4 linked regions of the Homo sapiens genome follow. The protein of the gene in region 2 purifies or fractionates together with the protein of the main gene of each other region. This does not show direct contact. Each region holds a gene or a part of one and is shown on either strand. Other genes may lie near its edges.

The links.
Region 1: the proteins of OR10A4 (region 2) and GADL1 purify together in Homo sapiens (affinity purification with mass spectrometry; one large-scale study listed by BioGRID and IntAct). This does not show direct contact.
Region 3: the proteins of OR10A4 (region 2) and KIAA1549 purify together in Homo sapiens (affinity purification with mass spectrometry; one large-scale study listed by BioGRID and IntAct). This does not show direct contact.
Region 4: the proteins of OR10A4 (region 2) and LRRC52 purify together in Homo sapiens (affinity purification with mass spectrometry; one large-scale study listed by BioGRID and IntAct). This does not show direct contact.

The regions. Positions count from the first base shown.
Region 1 is NC_000003.12:30,887,717-30,891,915, forward strand, and holds part of GADL1 (acidic amino acid decarboxylase GADL1), read right to left. Parts: intron 1-4,199. UniProt on the Homo sapiens protein: May catalyze the decarboxylation of L-aspartate, 3-sulfino-L-alanine (cysteine sulfinic acid), and L-cysteate to beta-alanine, hypotaurine and taurine, respectively. Does not exhibit any decarboxylation activity toward glutamate.
Region 2 is NC_000011.10:6,875,044-6,878,524, forward strand, and holds OR10A4 (olfactory receptor 10A4), read left to right. Parts: upstream 1-1,581; 5' UTR 1,582-1,604; coding exon 1,605-2,552; 3' UTR 2,553-2,576; downstream 2,577-3,481. UniProt on the Homo sapiens protein: Odorant receptor. May be involved in taste perception.
Region 3 is NC_000007.14:138,869,547-138,873,745, reverse strand, and holds part of KIAA1549 (UPF0606 protein KIAA1549), read left to right. Parts: intron 1-2,383; coding exon 2,384-2,589; intron 2,590-3,984; coding exon 3,985-4,199. UniProt on the Homo sapiens protein: May play a role in photoreceptor function.
Region 4 is NC_000001.11:165,550,047-165,554,245, forward strand, and holds part of LRRC52 (leucine-rich repeat-containing protein 52 precursor), read left to right. Parts: intron 1-4,199. UniProt on the Homo sapiens protein: Auxiliary protein of the large-conductance, voltage and calcium-activated potassium channel (BK alpha).

The sequences.
Region 1 (4,199 bases), on a different chromosome or scaffold from region 2:
TTTACAAGCTGAATGGCCCTGGTTCTTCAACAGGTAAATTTTAAGAATAGAAAAGAAAGAGAGAATCTATACATTAAAAAGACATATCATAGTTTCTAAATGGTAAAACTAAATTGTTATAACTAGCAATGCATATATGAATGGTAAAACTATTTTAAAAATGCAAGAAAGTAATGACAGTCAATGCTTGGTGTTCACAGGGGATTGGTTTCAGGTCCCCTATGGATACCAAAACCCGAGGCTGCTCAAGTCCCTTACGTGAAAGGGTATAATATTTGCATATAACCTAAGCACATCCTCCTGTATATTGTAAATCATCTCAAGATTATTTATAACACCTAATACGATGTAAGTGTTATGTAAGTAGTTGTTATACTGTATTGTTTTTGCGTTATTTTTTGTTTTTTATTTCTATTTTTTTAAAATATTTTCCTTCTGCAGTTTGTTAAATATGCAGATGCAGAAACTGCAGCTAGGAAGGGCCAACTGTACTATCAAAATCAGGATGCTGGTTACTTATAGGGGAGAAAAGAGCTCTGGGAATGGGGCACATAGAAGAGCCTTCTTAGACAATGGCAAAATTATATTTCCTCATCTGGGTGGTGGTTACGAGTGTACAAAATAATATTTGGGTGTTCTATGTGTGCATACCTCATAATTCAAAAAAGTTTAATAAACAGAAAACAGAATCACCATCGTGGAGTTGCGGAGACCCTCAGGAATCCTCAGAAGCTCATAGTGAAAGCCAAGTGGGAAGGAGAGAGAAGAGGGGTGTTCCAAAATCCCTGAGTGTCAGCAGCAGATTTAGTAGGGACAGATTCTGAGACATTTTTTTCAGGATTTTTCCCATTCCATACCTATTATCCCCAAGTGGGACGCAATAGGGGTACTGCCTTCAAATCAAGAGATTAGGACTTCTCATTAGAACTTCTTATTCTTTCTTCAAGAGAAGGAGTATATTAGGGCTGCATAACAACAAGGAGACAGTCTCAAGGGCACTCAACAAGTTTATCAGAGTGCCTATGAGGGAAGATATTAAAAATGAAGTAGGGCTTTCCTTTAAGACTGAAAAAGAGTTCCCTACATGAAAAGTAATGTGGCTGGTGGATCCTGGAAAAAGGGACCCTGAATTCCACTTCTGTCAGAAAACCAAAGAGGCAACCAGATGTTAGAAAGAAAACAATGTCATATGTTCCCAGAAACAGTGCGGAACCAACAGTAAAATTTTTGCAATATATATAAATGTATAATATTAAAAGTTTACTCATTCATACCTCTATTCGCAAATGTTAATTTAAAAACAGAGAAAAGTTGTATTAGTACATTTTCATACTGCTATGAAGAAATACCGAAGACTCGGTAATCTATAAAAAAAAAAAAAAAAAAAAAAAAAAAAAAAGAGGATTAATGGACTCACAGTTCCACATGGCTGGGGAAGCCTTACAATCATGGCGGGAGGCAAAGGAAGACCAAAGGCATGTTTTACATGGTGGGAGGCAAGACAGCGTGTGCAGTGGAACTGCCCTTTATAAAACCACTGAGTCCCTCCCATGATGTGTGGATTATGGGAACTACAATTCAAGATGAGATTTGGGTGGGGACACAGCCAAACCATATCAGAAGCCATCTTACTTTACAAAGTTTCTCGTTCCTGGAGCTGCCTTTGCAGACAAAGAAATGATATTCAATGGTGGCCACCTTGCAAACACCTCAAGCACACGTGCAAAACAATTAGGGAACACTTACACAGGAGGTATTCGTGAACTGTCAGAAAATGTATACATAACAAAGCAAAAGCCAAAAGCAGAAATGAGACCAAAAGTTAACCATGACTTACAGCAAAGCAATGTATTTAACGTGGCAACATGCTGAAAAATTAATATTCTTAGTCACTGGATTCCAGTTAACTTTTTTTTTCCTACTTTGAGTTTCTTTTTAAATCACGCATCTCTTTTAACTCAATTATGCAATTTTGGAATGCTGAGAGGTTGGAAACTACTGAAATGTTCAAAAAGAGTTAGAGGAGGGCAAATTTAGAAAATTAGCTGAGAAGACAACCTTAAGTGCCCAGTGACAGGTGGTACAGTATAAGTGATCTTATAATATACATAGTTTATATTTCTTATACTGCATTCCCTCCTTGTAAAAGCAATGCAAATTCCTACATAAGAATCAGAAATATAATCAAAAGAATTTAAGGAATATTCACAATCCCATCTACCTAGAGACAACACCTATTCTTTGCTATCTAGCCACCTAGAACCTCTTGCAATGTGTAGTCATTGTCCAAACATGAAATGCATTCACATAGTATTCTATACTCTACCATAATTTATTTTAGCCATCCAGCTATTAGATATTTAGATGTTCCAAACAATGCCTCTTTGTTTGATATGTAAATGGTTACTAATTTTTACTATTACAAACAGCTTCAAGGAGGCAAAGGTGAATATAAACTTAAGATTTAAATGCAAAAATGAAAAGAACTTAAGATTTCGGGAATCATGCATTGTCATGATTCTTGTCACTCTAAATCATTCATGTATGAGTTTACTGAACAAACACATGTTAAATATATGTACCTATTATGTGCCAGGCACTTTGCTAGATGCTGGGGATGCAGTAAATAGACAGATGTGTTCCATACCCTCATAGACATCAGGGAAGAAATAGATATATAGAATTACAAGCATGTAAAAAAGAATGATGATATGGGCAATACAGCCTTTACCAAACACATTAGAAAAACCAGTGAACAGAGATAAAAATCTTGAAACATCTGTGGTGGTAACTCCATTATGCCAGTGACCAAAATCCTTTCTGAAAATCGCCTCCCTATGAATCACCTGGACTCTTAATTCATTCTCCTGTTTTAATATGTAAATTAACTACTCATTCTTTCCTAAAACTGAAAGCCCAAATTACAAAGACTCAGCAGCAGACCAAATGTATAGAGTGTGGGGTAATCATGCAGCTAGTGGATATTCTTCATCAATAGGTGAATATGAGATTGTGCTTGGTAGCATTGTGGAGTTGAGTGAACATCACCATGGGCTCTTCCTGTAAAATCACATGGTGCTTAACACATTTCAATAACCTCATTAACTTTCACATACAATTTTCTGAACATAATAAGTCTATAACCTACTACCTGCCATGCATTGTGCATATTATTCCTAATCTTCATGATAATCCTAAACAGTAGATATTTTTATCCCTACCTTACAAATTAACAAACTGAGGCTCACAGAGGTTAAATCTGGTATCCAGAGACCCAATCTGAACAGGCTGTCGGCTAGAGTATTTACTTTGCATTCTTCCTTCCTTCCTTCCTTCCTTCCTTCCTGTGGTTACCAACAAGAGAACAGCTGTGGTGAGTCTGCCTGCTCCCAGGGTACTGCCTTATAAAATGGATTCATCTGTCATGATCTGAGAGGAACAGAATCAGTAAACCTACCCCAAGAGAAGGGCTGTTATAGAGAGTTCATCCCTTGGGATGCTGCCCTTTTCCCTCAGAGCCAAGCTGCTTTGATCCTTAGCAACCAAACAGCAGAGCACATATACATGCCCCTGAGAGAGGGGCAGTGAGCTGCCTCCTCAGGACTGCCACATCCAGCCCTACCATGAGTGCGAACCTCCCAAAACTGACAGCTTTTCTCCCCATCCTTCCCACTCAAAGAGGAAACAATGCTACTGTCATTTCAAGGAACTTAAAGCCACACACATCTCAGGGTCTTCTCCAGCATTCTTCCTGTGGTCCCAGCAGAGGCAGGCAAAGGAGGCTGTTCCAGGTCACTGGCCCATATTCTGTAACATAGGCCAGGGCCAGGGATTAGGTGTTAGGAGTGTAGGGGTGCGGGACTCTGGAGTGAGAGCCCTGGGTTTAACGCCCAGAGCTGATCTTTACCCTCTCCAAGACTTGGTTTCCTTAAAATAAAAAAAAAAATAAAAAGCAGATCATAATAGTATCCCCATTGACTTGTTAACGAAGGTTACATAAGATGGTATTTGTAGTTCGGCACAGCAATAGTAGGGACCATGCACCCAGTGATGAATTTTGCCTGTTGGGGGTTTCATTTAAATGATAAGAAATAAACAAAAAATGAAAAAGTCACAGAGAAAAAGAGAAAATCTAGAGTGGGGTAAAAAAAAAATACAGAAATTTTGGTCCCAAATGTCATGATTTCAATTTTATTACA
Region 2 (3,481 bases):
CCATTGCTCTTATATACCATACTTTCTACTAACATAATTAATTAATTAATTAATTTTTGAGTGGAATTTTGCTCTTGTTGCCCATGCTGGAGTGCAATGGTGTGATCTCGGCTCACCGCAACTTCCGCCTCCCGTGTTCCAGCGATTCTCCTGCCTCAGCCTCCTGAGTAGCTGGGATTACAGGCATGCACCACCACGCCGAGCTAATTTTGTATTTTTAGTAGAGACAGGGTTTCTCTATGTTGGTCAGGCTGGTCTTGAACTCCCGATCTCAGGTGATCAGCCAGCCTCCACCTCCCAAAGAGCTGTGATTACAGGCGTGAGCCTCCGTGCCTGGCTTAACAGAATTTGTTTATAACCTGTCTTCCCTATGATGAGTTTTATGAGGGCAGAGATTTTTGCTTGTTTTATTTACTAATGTATTATCTTCAGTATCTAAAACAGAGCATAGCATACAGAATTATCTTCTGATAATCAATATTTACTGAATTAATTATTTTATTTTAGAGATTGAATAGTAGGGGCTATAGTGAGTTTTGGCAATGAGCTGGATAAGAAGATTTAGAAGATAGGTCTAGCATTATATCAATAATTATAATGGTTAACATTCATGGAACATGTACAGTATAGCAGACAACATGCTAAGTGCTTCAGATTTTATTCCTCCATATGTTTATAGTCATCACAAAGAATTTCAGGGTCCCAATTTTGAAGCTTCGTTATTAATGCAATGATGAAATCTTTTGTTTCCTTTTCATGGGATTTCATATTAGTCACACTTGCATATTTAAGTTGTATTTTATTAACATGTAAAATGTGAGCTTCAAGTTTCTTGAGAGTCAAGACACAAGTCAACCAAGAGAGCTGATGAAAAAGTTCATGCTTAACCCATCTAGATTCTGTCCATGGTTCTGATGCTATCTTGACACATACAACCACTTGGAAAATACTCATCCCTGGGATCAAGATAAGCCACCCTGACTATGTTGTGTGTCTTCTTGTTTACACTGCAATTTTCAGAGTGTAGAAATTGAGATTCTCACAATATAGTGAAACCTTCCTGAGTATGGGCTTCTTGAGATTGAGACACATTCGGATCTCCTCCTCAGGAATCATTTAGTAATTGCTGAATCAGTTTCTTTGATTTTCTCCTTCCTACATTTTTGTTTTGCAAAAAATATACCTGCCTGACCTCACCACTTTTCATTATGTGTCACGACCTCTCTCTTCATAAATGCTTGGCCTGCCTTTCTTAGCACCATTATTGAAGAGAGATAAGGTAGGAGCATGAACATAAAGCTGTGATTTTGCCCATTCTCTACAGAGAACAGAAAAATCAGGACATGTATAGATATATATAGTATGTTAATTAAGTCTGGAAAAGTAGAATTCTTTCCCCAAAAATTGTGAATCTAATGGTCAAATTTGTTTTATTATATTTTGGAGAGTATAGATGTTTGATCCTCAACAACTCTAACAAGGAAAGTAAAGAATGAGGCCACAGGAGGTCCCCTTTATAAGAATATAATAAAGGTATAAATAACATATGAGATTTCTTCTACCTTCCTAGATTTTGAATGCCCAGTGAAGTCCTGGGCAGAAGAATGATGTGGGAAAACTGGACAATTGTCAGTGAATTTGTTCTCGTGAGCTTCTCAGCCCTGTCCACTGAGCTTCAGGCTCTACTGTTTCTCCTTTTCTTGACCATTTACTTGGTTACTTTAATGGGCAATGTCCTCATCATCCTGGTCACTATAGCTGACTCTGCACTACAAAGTCCTATGTACTTCTTCCTCAGAAACTTGTCCTTCCTGGAGATAGGTTTCAACTTGGTCATTGTGCCCAAGATGCTGGGGACCCTGATCATTCAAGACACAACCATCTCCTTCCTTGGATGTGCCACTCAGATGTATTTCTTCTTCTTTTTTGGGGCTGCTGAGTGCTGCCTCCTGGCCACCATGGCATATGACCGCTACGTGGCCATCTGTGACCCCTTGCACTACCCAGTCATCATGGGCCACATATCCTGTGCCCAGCTGGCAGCTGCCTCTTGGTTCTCAGGGTTTTCAGTGGCCACTGTGCAAACCACATGGATTTTCAGTTTCCCTTTTTGTGGCCCCAACAGGGTGAACCACTTCTTCTGTGACAGCCCTCCTGTTATTGCACTGGTCTGTGCTGACACCTCTGTGTTTGAACTGGAGGCTCTGACAGCCACTGTCCTATTCATTCTCTTTCCTTTCTTGCTGATCCTGGGATCCTATGTCCGCATCCTCTCCACTATCTTCAGGATGCCGTCAGCTGAGGGGAAACATCAGGCATTCTCCACCTGTTCCGCCCACCTCTTGGTTGTCTCTCTCTTCTATAGCACTGCCATCCTCACGTATTTCCGACCCCAATCCAGTGCCTCTTCTGAGAGCAAGAAGCTGCTGTCACTCTCTTCCACAGTGGTGACTCCCATGTTGAACCCCATCATCTACAGCTCAAGGAATAAAGAAGTGAAGGCTGCACTGAAGCGGCTTATCCACAGGACCCTGGGCTCTCAGAAACTATGATTGGCTTAGATGGAAACTGAAGGGGTAAAATGTAAGTACACACACAAAAAATAGAAAAATGAATTCCTCAAGTGGATTTTGTGTTTCTACTCTTTCCAGGTGACACGGTATGCCTACTGAAATTTTTTACTTTCTACTAAGACCTATTTCTGAAAGAAAGAACATGAGTAATGTGCTACCTGACTTCAAACTATACTACAAGGCTACAGTAACCAAAACAGCATGGTACTGGTACAAAAACAGACATATAGACCAATGGAACACAACAGAGCCCTCAGAAATAATACCACACATCTACAACCATATGATCTTTCACAAACCTGACAAAAACAAGAAATGGGGAAAGGATTCCCTATTTAATAAATGGTGCTGGGAAATCTGGCTAGCCATATGTAGAAAGCTGAAACTGGATCCCTTCCTTATACCTTATACAAAAATTAATTCAAGATGGATTAAAGACTTACATGTTAGACCTAAAACCATAAAAACCCTAGAAGAAAACCTAGGCAATACCATTCAGGACATAGGCATGGGCAAGGACTTCATGTCTAAAACACCAAAAGCAATGGCAACAAAAGCCAAAATTGACAAATGGGATCTAATTAAACTAAAGAGCTTCTGCACAGCTAAAGAAACTACCATCAGAGTGAACAGGCAACCTACAGAATGAAAGAAAATTTTTGCAATCTACTCATCTGACAAAGGGCTAATATCCAGAATCCACAAAGAACTCAAAAAAATTTACAAGAAAAAAACAAACAACCCCATCAACAAGTGGGCGAAGGATATGAACAGACACTTCTCAAAAGAAGACATTTATGCAGCCAACAGACACATGAAAAAATGCTCATCATCACTGGCCATCAGAGAAACGCAAATCAAAACCACAATGAGATACCATCTCACACCAGTTAGAATGGTGATCATTA
Region 3 (4,199 bases), on a different chromosome or scaffold from region 2:
AGCGAGGGTGAAGCAAGGGCCGTGACTACAGTGGGAGGGGGTGAGCCGGGCTCTGGACAGGAGCCCAGTCTTAGGCTGCTGCTCCAGTGGTACCCAGGCAGGGCTGACAGCCCAGTAGGGAGGGGCCTTTTTTTTTTTTTTTTTTTAATGCCTGTCACCTTTGTCTCCCAGCAACCCAGAAGTCTCTGCCACCCTGGAGGAAAGTGATCCCACTTCTAGGTATCAGTAGCTTAATGGGCTACCCTCTGTGACATTTATTGTTACTCTATAAGTCTGGGTTAAGCAGGGCTAGCCTGTCTGGAGAAGCTCATGATCTCCTTTTAGGCATTATGCCTGCAACTTGAGTAGCTGCCACCGATGAATGGTGGTGCCTGGCTGTGCTTCCATTGCACAAATGCACAAATAGTCAGGTTCCTTCTAGGTATGGGGCCAAGAAAGAAAGCTTGAGCATAGCTGGAGTCCAGACAATGGTGTCCTCTGGCTCAGACAGACATCATTCATTCAGAATCAGCCAAATGACTTCTGATTGCTTGGGATAATGAATGTAATTCAAATTGAGAGAAAATACAGATTTACATAGCAATGCTGTGCTTTCCTTATATGAAACATCAACTACTGCTTCTTACTGCTTTGCTCATCTATGTTTTTTACACCGAGGAGAGACCTTTGTGTTTTTCACTTATGCTTTGAAGTTTCAAATGTTAGGCTTTTGTTTAGAAGCACTTTCTGCATGTGCGTATTCCCTCTGTCAGCCTGCTGGCCATTTATTTGAAAGCAACATCCAGAAGTGACTGGCTGATTAGAAGAAGGGCATCAGTTGATCTTTTTTTGGCGGGGGTTGGGGGACAGGGTCTCACTCTGTCACCCAGGCTGGAATGTAGAGACATGATCTCGGCTCACTGCACCCTCTACCTCCTGGGCTTAAGGGATCCTCCCACCTCAGCCTTCTGAGTGACTAGGACTACAGGCATGTGCCACCACGCCCAACTAATTAAAAAAAATTGTAGAGACAAGGTCTTAACTATGTTGCCCAGGCTGGTCTCAAACTCCTGGGCTCAAGCAATCCTCTTGCCTCAGCCTCTCAAAGTGCTGGGATGACAGGCATGAGCCATTGTGCCTGGCCAGTTGATCTTCTTAAGTGTGAGTAACTAGCTCTTTCTACTCAGCCCGTCTTCATTTTTCTCTTTCTCTTTTTTCAAAATTAAAGTGTATTGGGATTATCTCTACTGTAAAAATAATACTTATTACAGAAAATCCTCATTATCAAAAATAAAAGACATGGGGAAAAATCACCCATCATGTGAAGATTCAGTCTCTGTTAATATTTTTAAGTGTTTCTTTTCTGTCTTTTTTTTTGTGCATTTGAATTTCTTTTTTTTTTTTTTCACAGTTCTGATTAGTTTTTAAGAAAATTATTGTGGTTGAATATACATGGCCTAAAATTTGCCATGTAACCATTTATACATGTACTCTTCAACTGTTTTTAAAGTAGGAACTAGCGCCGGGCCCGGTGGCTCCTGCCTGTAATCCCAGCACTTTGGGAGGCCGAGGCAGGTGGATCACTTGAGGTCAGGAGTTCAAGACCAACTTGGACAATATCGTGAAACCTTGTCTCTACTAAAAGTATTAATACAAAAGTTAGCTAGGCATGGTGGCATGCTCCTGTAATTCCAGCTACTCAGGAGGCTGAGGCAGGAGAATCACTATCCAGCCTAGGCGAGAGAGTGAGACTCCGTCTCAAAAAAATAAAAAATAAATTAAAAAAATAAATAAAGTAGGAACTAATTCCCTGCAAGCAACAGGTTTTTTCTTCTCATGTGTCTTCAACTTCGTTTTCTTTCCACATCAGAACTGAAAAGTCAGAAGTGTGGTCACTGTTAACTGGTACCTGCCTGCACGTACTGGTCTTCTGTTTTCTCTGTAGTACGACATTGCCTTGGCAGCTGAATTTGTATCACTCCAGCGAGCTCCCTGCCAGATGGTAGCAATAGTTCAGAGCCGCTATAAATGTGTTTTCTGAGAGTTCTGTGAATGGCTTATTGACTACTGAGCAACTTCAGGCTCCTTCTGTCCTATATTCTTTCTGAATGAAGATTTTGAACCACAGACAAAACAGTGCAGTTTTTCACACAGTATCATAATGATTTCCTCACGTCTCTTCTTAGGGTACTTGTAATTTTTAATGAAGTTAGAGGATACAGTATATAGCCCAGACTATTTAAGCTCAGAGAGTGAAATTGTAAACACTCTGCTACTGCAGTGGGGATGTATTTTTGGTCAGAGGCCCATCCAAAGATTCTTTAAAGAATAATTCACAATTTTGATTAGTTGCTGTTTCTTTAGATGACTTCGTGTATGTGTTTTGCTTTTCCTTCTGTTCCAGGGCCACCACTGCCCAGTTCGGGAAATGAGCAGCACTCATCAGCCTCCATCTTCGAGCACGTGGACAGGATCTCCCGCCCCCCGGAGGCTAGCCGGCGGGTCCCCAGTAAGATCCAGCTTATCGCCATGCAGCCGATCCCGGCACCTCCCGTCCAGCGCCCCTCCCCAGCCGACCGAGTGGCGGAAAGCAATAAAATCAACAAAGAGGTATTTGCTTTTATTTAAAAGTCTGTTACTTAAAAAACTCGGCTAAGCCCGGTGGCTTATGCCTGTAATCCCAGCACTTGGGGGGGCCAAGGCAGGCAGATCGCCTGAGGTCGGGAGTTTGAGACCAGCCTGGCCAACATGGTGAAACGCCATCTCTACTAAAAATACAAAATTAGCTGGGCGTGGTGGCGGGTTCCTGTAATCCCAGCTGCTCAGGAGGCTGAGGCAGGAGAATCACTTGAACCCGGGAGGGGGAGTTTGCACTGAGCCGGGATCTCGCCACTGCACTCCAGCCTGGTTGACAGAGTGAGACTCCATCTCAAAACAAAAACAAAAACAAAAAAAACTCACACACTTATTGGGTCTGTGTTTGAAAATGAGTGCAAGGTACAGTGTCAACTAGTTACTGAAGGCATAAGCTGCTGACAAGGATTCTTAATGTAAAACATCACGCTTGTTGGAGATCAGATACTGTGCATGGACACTCTGGGGCGCATTGGCAGACATGCAGAAAAGTGTTAGTGCGGCCGACCAGGGGCTGCCCTCCTCAGAAAGAGCCACTTCAGCTTCTGATCCTCCTCACGCTTCAACGCAGTTCAGGTTTCCGTCTTTGGGGATACCACTCTGGGGGCAGGGGGTCTCATGTCAGGTAACTTGTTTTGGTGACACTAGGTAATTATCCTCTTTATATCTGTCAGTCCTATTTATTAAAGATCTCTAAAGGAGGAAAATATTCTTTTCTGGTTATCAGATGTCTCTTTAAAGTTGTCATTGGCCGATTTCCAAGGTTCGAGTGACTTTTTTTCCCTGCTTTGGGGGATGGTGACAAGACTCCAGTGCACCACACAGTGCTTGAGGGTAAAGCTCGTGGGATGGCAGGGTCTCTGCTCCTCCCTGGTCTGTGCCTGTCGCTCTCTCGGTGACTCCGTGGAGCTTACAGACAGCAAGTTAAGTGTGGGCCAGAGGAGAGGAGCATAGCAGGAAGGCGCTCCTAGAAGGCTTTGCTGGCTGGGCATGGTGGCTCACACCTGTAATCCCAGCACTTTGGGAGCTTGATGTGGGCGTATCATTTCAGGTCAGGAGTTCGAGACCAGCCTGGCCAACATAGAGAAACCCCATCTCTACTAAAAGTACAAAAAATGAACTGGGCATGATGGTGCGTGTCTGTAATCCCAGCTACTCGGCAGGCTGAGACAGGAGAATCACTTGAACCCGGGAAGTGGAGGTTGCAGCGAGCTGAGATCATGCCATTGCACTCCAGCCTGGGCAACAGAGTGAGACTCTGTCTCAAATAAATAAATAAACATAAAAATAAATAAAGACTTTGCGAAGTGTGTGTCCCAGAAGCTTCCCGGGACCTCTATGGCTGTCTTTCTCTCCCTCACCCTTCCTCAGATTCAGACCGCGCTGCGGCACAAGTCTGAGATCGAGCACCATCGCAACAAGATCCGCCTGCGCGCCAAGCGCCGCGGGCACTACGAGTTCCCGGTGGTAGACGACCTGTCCTCGGGCGACACTAAGGAGCGACACCGGGTGTACCGCAGGGCACAGATGCAGATCGACAAGATCCTGGACCCCACGGCCAGCGTGCCCTCCGTGTTCATAGAGCC
Region 4 (4,199 bases), on a different chromosome or scaffold from region 2:
CTGAAAACAGACCCACACATTCCATTTCCTTTCTGGCCCAGGTTAGCAAGTGGGAGGACTAATTCCTGGCCAGCACTGTTATTTTCCAGTCATTAATGCTACTTGAAGGTGAGAGTGGTCATTGAGTTCTTCCCAGGATATTTGATTTCCCTCAGGGGACAGGGTTGAATGGCTTTCAGGAGGCTCTCGAAAACTCACTCAAACTCTAAGCTCCAAAACATACAAAACCTAGCCTCATACATCCCATTCCCCTCTACCCGCAAAGTCTGCTCTAATGCTGTCCAATAGAAGTTTCTGCAACAGGGTAAATAGTCTATATATATGGTGTCGGATACAGTAGTCACTAGCCGCATGTGGCCATTGAGCTCTTGAAATTTGGCTAGAACAAATGAACTGAATTTTTATTTTATTTTATTTCAATACATTTAAATAGCCACCTAAGGCTACTGGCTACCATACTGGTTAGGGTAGCCTTTTAACATAGGATGTTTAAGCTGGAACTTTAGAATCCAGAGTCACAGGTAAGTGGCTATAGAGAAAAGCCCAGCACAGAGATATCCTGACATCCAAGTTCAATGTTTTTCCCTGATGCCATGATATTTCTTTGCTGTCAAGCACATCATGATCCATTTAACTCTGAAACATTTATTGTATATTCATTATGTCCCCAACATTGCATTATAATGCTGGGGTGGCTGTTTCACCGAGAAAAAAAGTCATAATTTTTGTCTTGAATAAGATAATCTAGGATACGAGAAACAGAAAATAGAATTGAAAGCCAGGAAGCCCTGTCTTGATCCCAGAAATGCCACTGTGTGATATGGGGAAACTCACTTTCCTTCTTCAAGAGTCACTTTTCTTGTCCTTAAAATAAAGGATTTGGGTTAGAGATCCTCAAAGGCCTCCTATAGCTGGTAGCCTATGGACCTAAATAGAAAGATAAGCACACAGGAGGTGAGAGGAGAACAGCGCTCAGCAGGCAAGGTCCCAGGTGAGCAAGTGCAGAGTGGCAAGTGCTGAGGCGAAGGTGTTCCCAGTGATGAGGGCTACATCACATAATTAGGAAGTTCATTTAAGAAACAGATGCCTCTAACTCCTGTACTCTCCCACCTCCTATATTAAGCACCCTCAACTTCACTAAAACAATGCCTCCACCCCAAGAAACTCATTGCCCCAGACTTTCCTCCCAGGCCAGACCTGCTCAAACAGTGCTTCTCAAACTCTAATGAGCACAAGAATCCCAGGTCCTATGCCCTGAGGTTCTGATTCAGTCAACTCTTCATGCCGGTTGTCCTTAGGCCACTTTTCAGAAACCCTAGAACAGTGGCCTGTGTTCTGGACCTTCAGTGGCTGTTCCAATTAGTAAATGAATCGATTTGCTCTGAGATGCTAATGGCTAGTGTTTTGAAATATCCCCTCAGGGAGCATTTGCAATTTGACAGGGAACAACCAGAAACAGTGAGAATTCAGAAAGTGACAGGCTACCAGGGGCTAGAGTGGGGCGGTTTGAGGACAGAGAGTCCCCTCTGTGTCAGCTCTGATAGCCTTAGCCAGTACTAAATGAGCCTGATGGTGGGGCCCACACATCAGAGGAGCTTGAGCAAGGGTGCTGCAGAGGCAGTGGACAAAGCCACTCAGGGCCATCTGCAGGGAGCAGATGGGTTGAGTCATGTGCTGCTTCAGGTCCAAGTCATTTTGAGGGCGTTTTGAGCAGAGAACATCTTAGTTTCATTACGAGGTTATATCATCCTGTATTCAAGACTGTTGTAATGGGATAATGGCCCCATTTCTACCTACCAAGTACAAAGTCATCCACAACTGTGCCCAAACTTAGATTTCCGGAATGAATTCAGGTCCTCACGTTATTCCACTATCAATGCTTACCCATGTCCTCCATCAGGGAAATTAAAATAAAGACCAAAGGCTAAAAAAGAAAAAAAAAAAAAAAAGGCTGGGCAACCAGCAGCTCCAAGGCTTCCAAGGCTGTTGAAAGCCAGAACAGCAGCCTCCTGAGGGCAAGGAGGGGGCTGAGAGGGGTGCAACTGAGTCAGTGATCCCTAAGCCACCCAGAAAATCCAAGAAGGGATAGGAGCAGCAAGCATGGGACATTTAGGAACCCCTGGGTGATGCTGACACACTCCCTGACTCAGGCCAATTGGGATCCCTGAGAGTAGGTGATCGAAGGTTACTCCAAGCTCAGAAATGCCAGATTTCTACACCTGGCCCCTCAGGTCACCCAGCATCACTCAGGACTCTGAAAAACAGCAGTTCAAGTCTGGCTAAAGCAGCCAACCTCAGTTTGCTCATCTTTAAAGGTGAAGAGCTCCTCATCCTGGAGGTAATCCTACAAAGGATGGATGTGGCTAGAGAAAAGAATGGGGGCCCAGCTAGGAAGGGCCTTGAATGGTTTTCTGGGGAACATGCAATATATCCTAAGAAGTCTTGGGAGGCAAGTGAGCTGGAGGTAAGGCTAGGAAGGAAGCTCCCGTAGGCGTTCAAGCCAGACAGTATGGCAGCCTATGGCAACAGTGAGGAGGAGAGGTGTAGACATTTGAGAAGGAATCATTTAGAAGGCAGAAGCAACAGGATTTGGGACTGAACTAGCTCCTCTCATAGTTTCTTGTGCACCCTTTGTAACTTCTGGCACAATTCTAATTAATAAATGTGTATTCATTTAACATTTGTCTTCCCTGATAGACCGGAAGCTCTATGACAGCAGATCTGGATCTTCGGAAACAAGCACAGGCCTGACACAGAGAAAATGCTCAACTAGTGTTTCCTGAGTGAATGAATGAGATACAGAAAATATAGAAAAGGGAAAAATCAATGGTAGCTCCCAAGACTTTGGCTTGGACAGTGTGGGGGCTTTGCTGACATAAACACACTTGGAGGAGGGCAGTGAGGAAGTCAGGCTAGAAGTCAAGTCCCATCTTGACCTTACTGAGTGGGAAGTCCCTGTAAAACACTAGGCATTTGTATGTTCTGACCTGAAATTCAGAATAGAGGACAGGGCATAAAATATACATATATTTGGGGATCATCAACTTACTAGTGATCACTGAAACCTAACAGAAGATGAGATCAATCAGGAAAAAGAGTTTCAAGTGAGGATAATAAGGGCCAAGTACAGAAGCTTTGGGGAATGCAACATACTAAAGGGTCAAGTAAGAAAGAGCAACTCATGTAGGACAGCAGGAGCCCCCAGACAAAGGAAATTAGAACAGGATAAATTCATGGAAGCCAAAGAGTTCCAAAAAGTGGGAGCAGGTCAGATAAGGACAGAAAACTGTCCATCAGATTTAGCACCAGGGATCCCTGATGTCTTGGGCAGTTCTGCTGGCATGATGAGAGTGAACACCAATCCATAATGGGCTATGAACTGAACATAAAAGGTGTGAAGGAGTAAACCATGTAAACTACTCTTCTAGAAAGCATGGCTGTGGACTGAAGGGAATAGGGTGCTAGTTGGAGAGAAAACAAATGAAGAAGGAGGATTTTTAGGAGAAAAGAGATCCAACCATGTGTTTATCTGCTGATGGAAAGAGTCGATGCAGAGAAAAAGGACAAAGATACAAGAAAGAGGGGAAGTCATTGGTGGGGTAAAGTCCCTGAGAGGACAGAAATGGATGGATGATCTCCAAGGGGTAATCCTTGAAAGGGGAGTGGCACCCCCTCTGCCCTCTGGGACTGCAGAGAAGGAGGCGAGGGTAAACATAGATGGGGGTGACTGTAATAACAGGGGACAAATACAATTGAGGGGCCCAATTGGTGCCTGTATTTCTCTTTCAGTGAGGTGAAAGACAAAAAATGACTATATATCTATAAAGTACACATTTTCATGTAATGTTTTCTATGAAGCTTCCATAACACCAATCCAATTAGGCGACTATAAAATATCCATTGTCCTTGAGATGCTCACATCCTAGTTGAGCAGGCAACACCAAGGTGGGCTGTGGATGCAGGCCACCTGTCATTTCATCCTGCCTCTGTCACTTGCCGACTACTTGACTGTGGGCAACAATCTCCATCCAACCCAAGTCCTCATGTGCAAAATGCAGATAAAATAGTGCCTATTTCCTCAAGTTGTGATAATTAAATGAAAAAACCCACATGAAGATTTTAGAACTGCACACAGTACATGTTCAATTAATGCTAGCTGTCGTTGTTGTTACAAATTCTTTGCCTGGCAGTGATTCTGA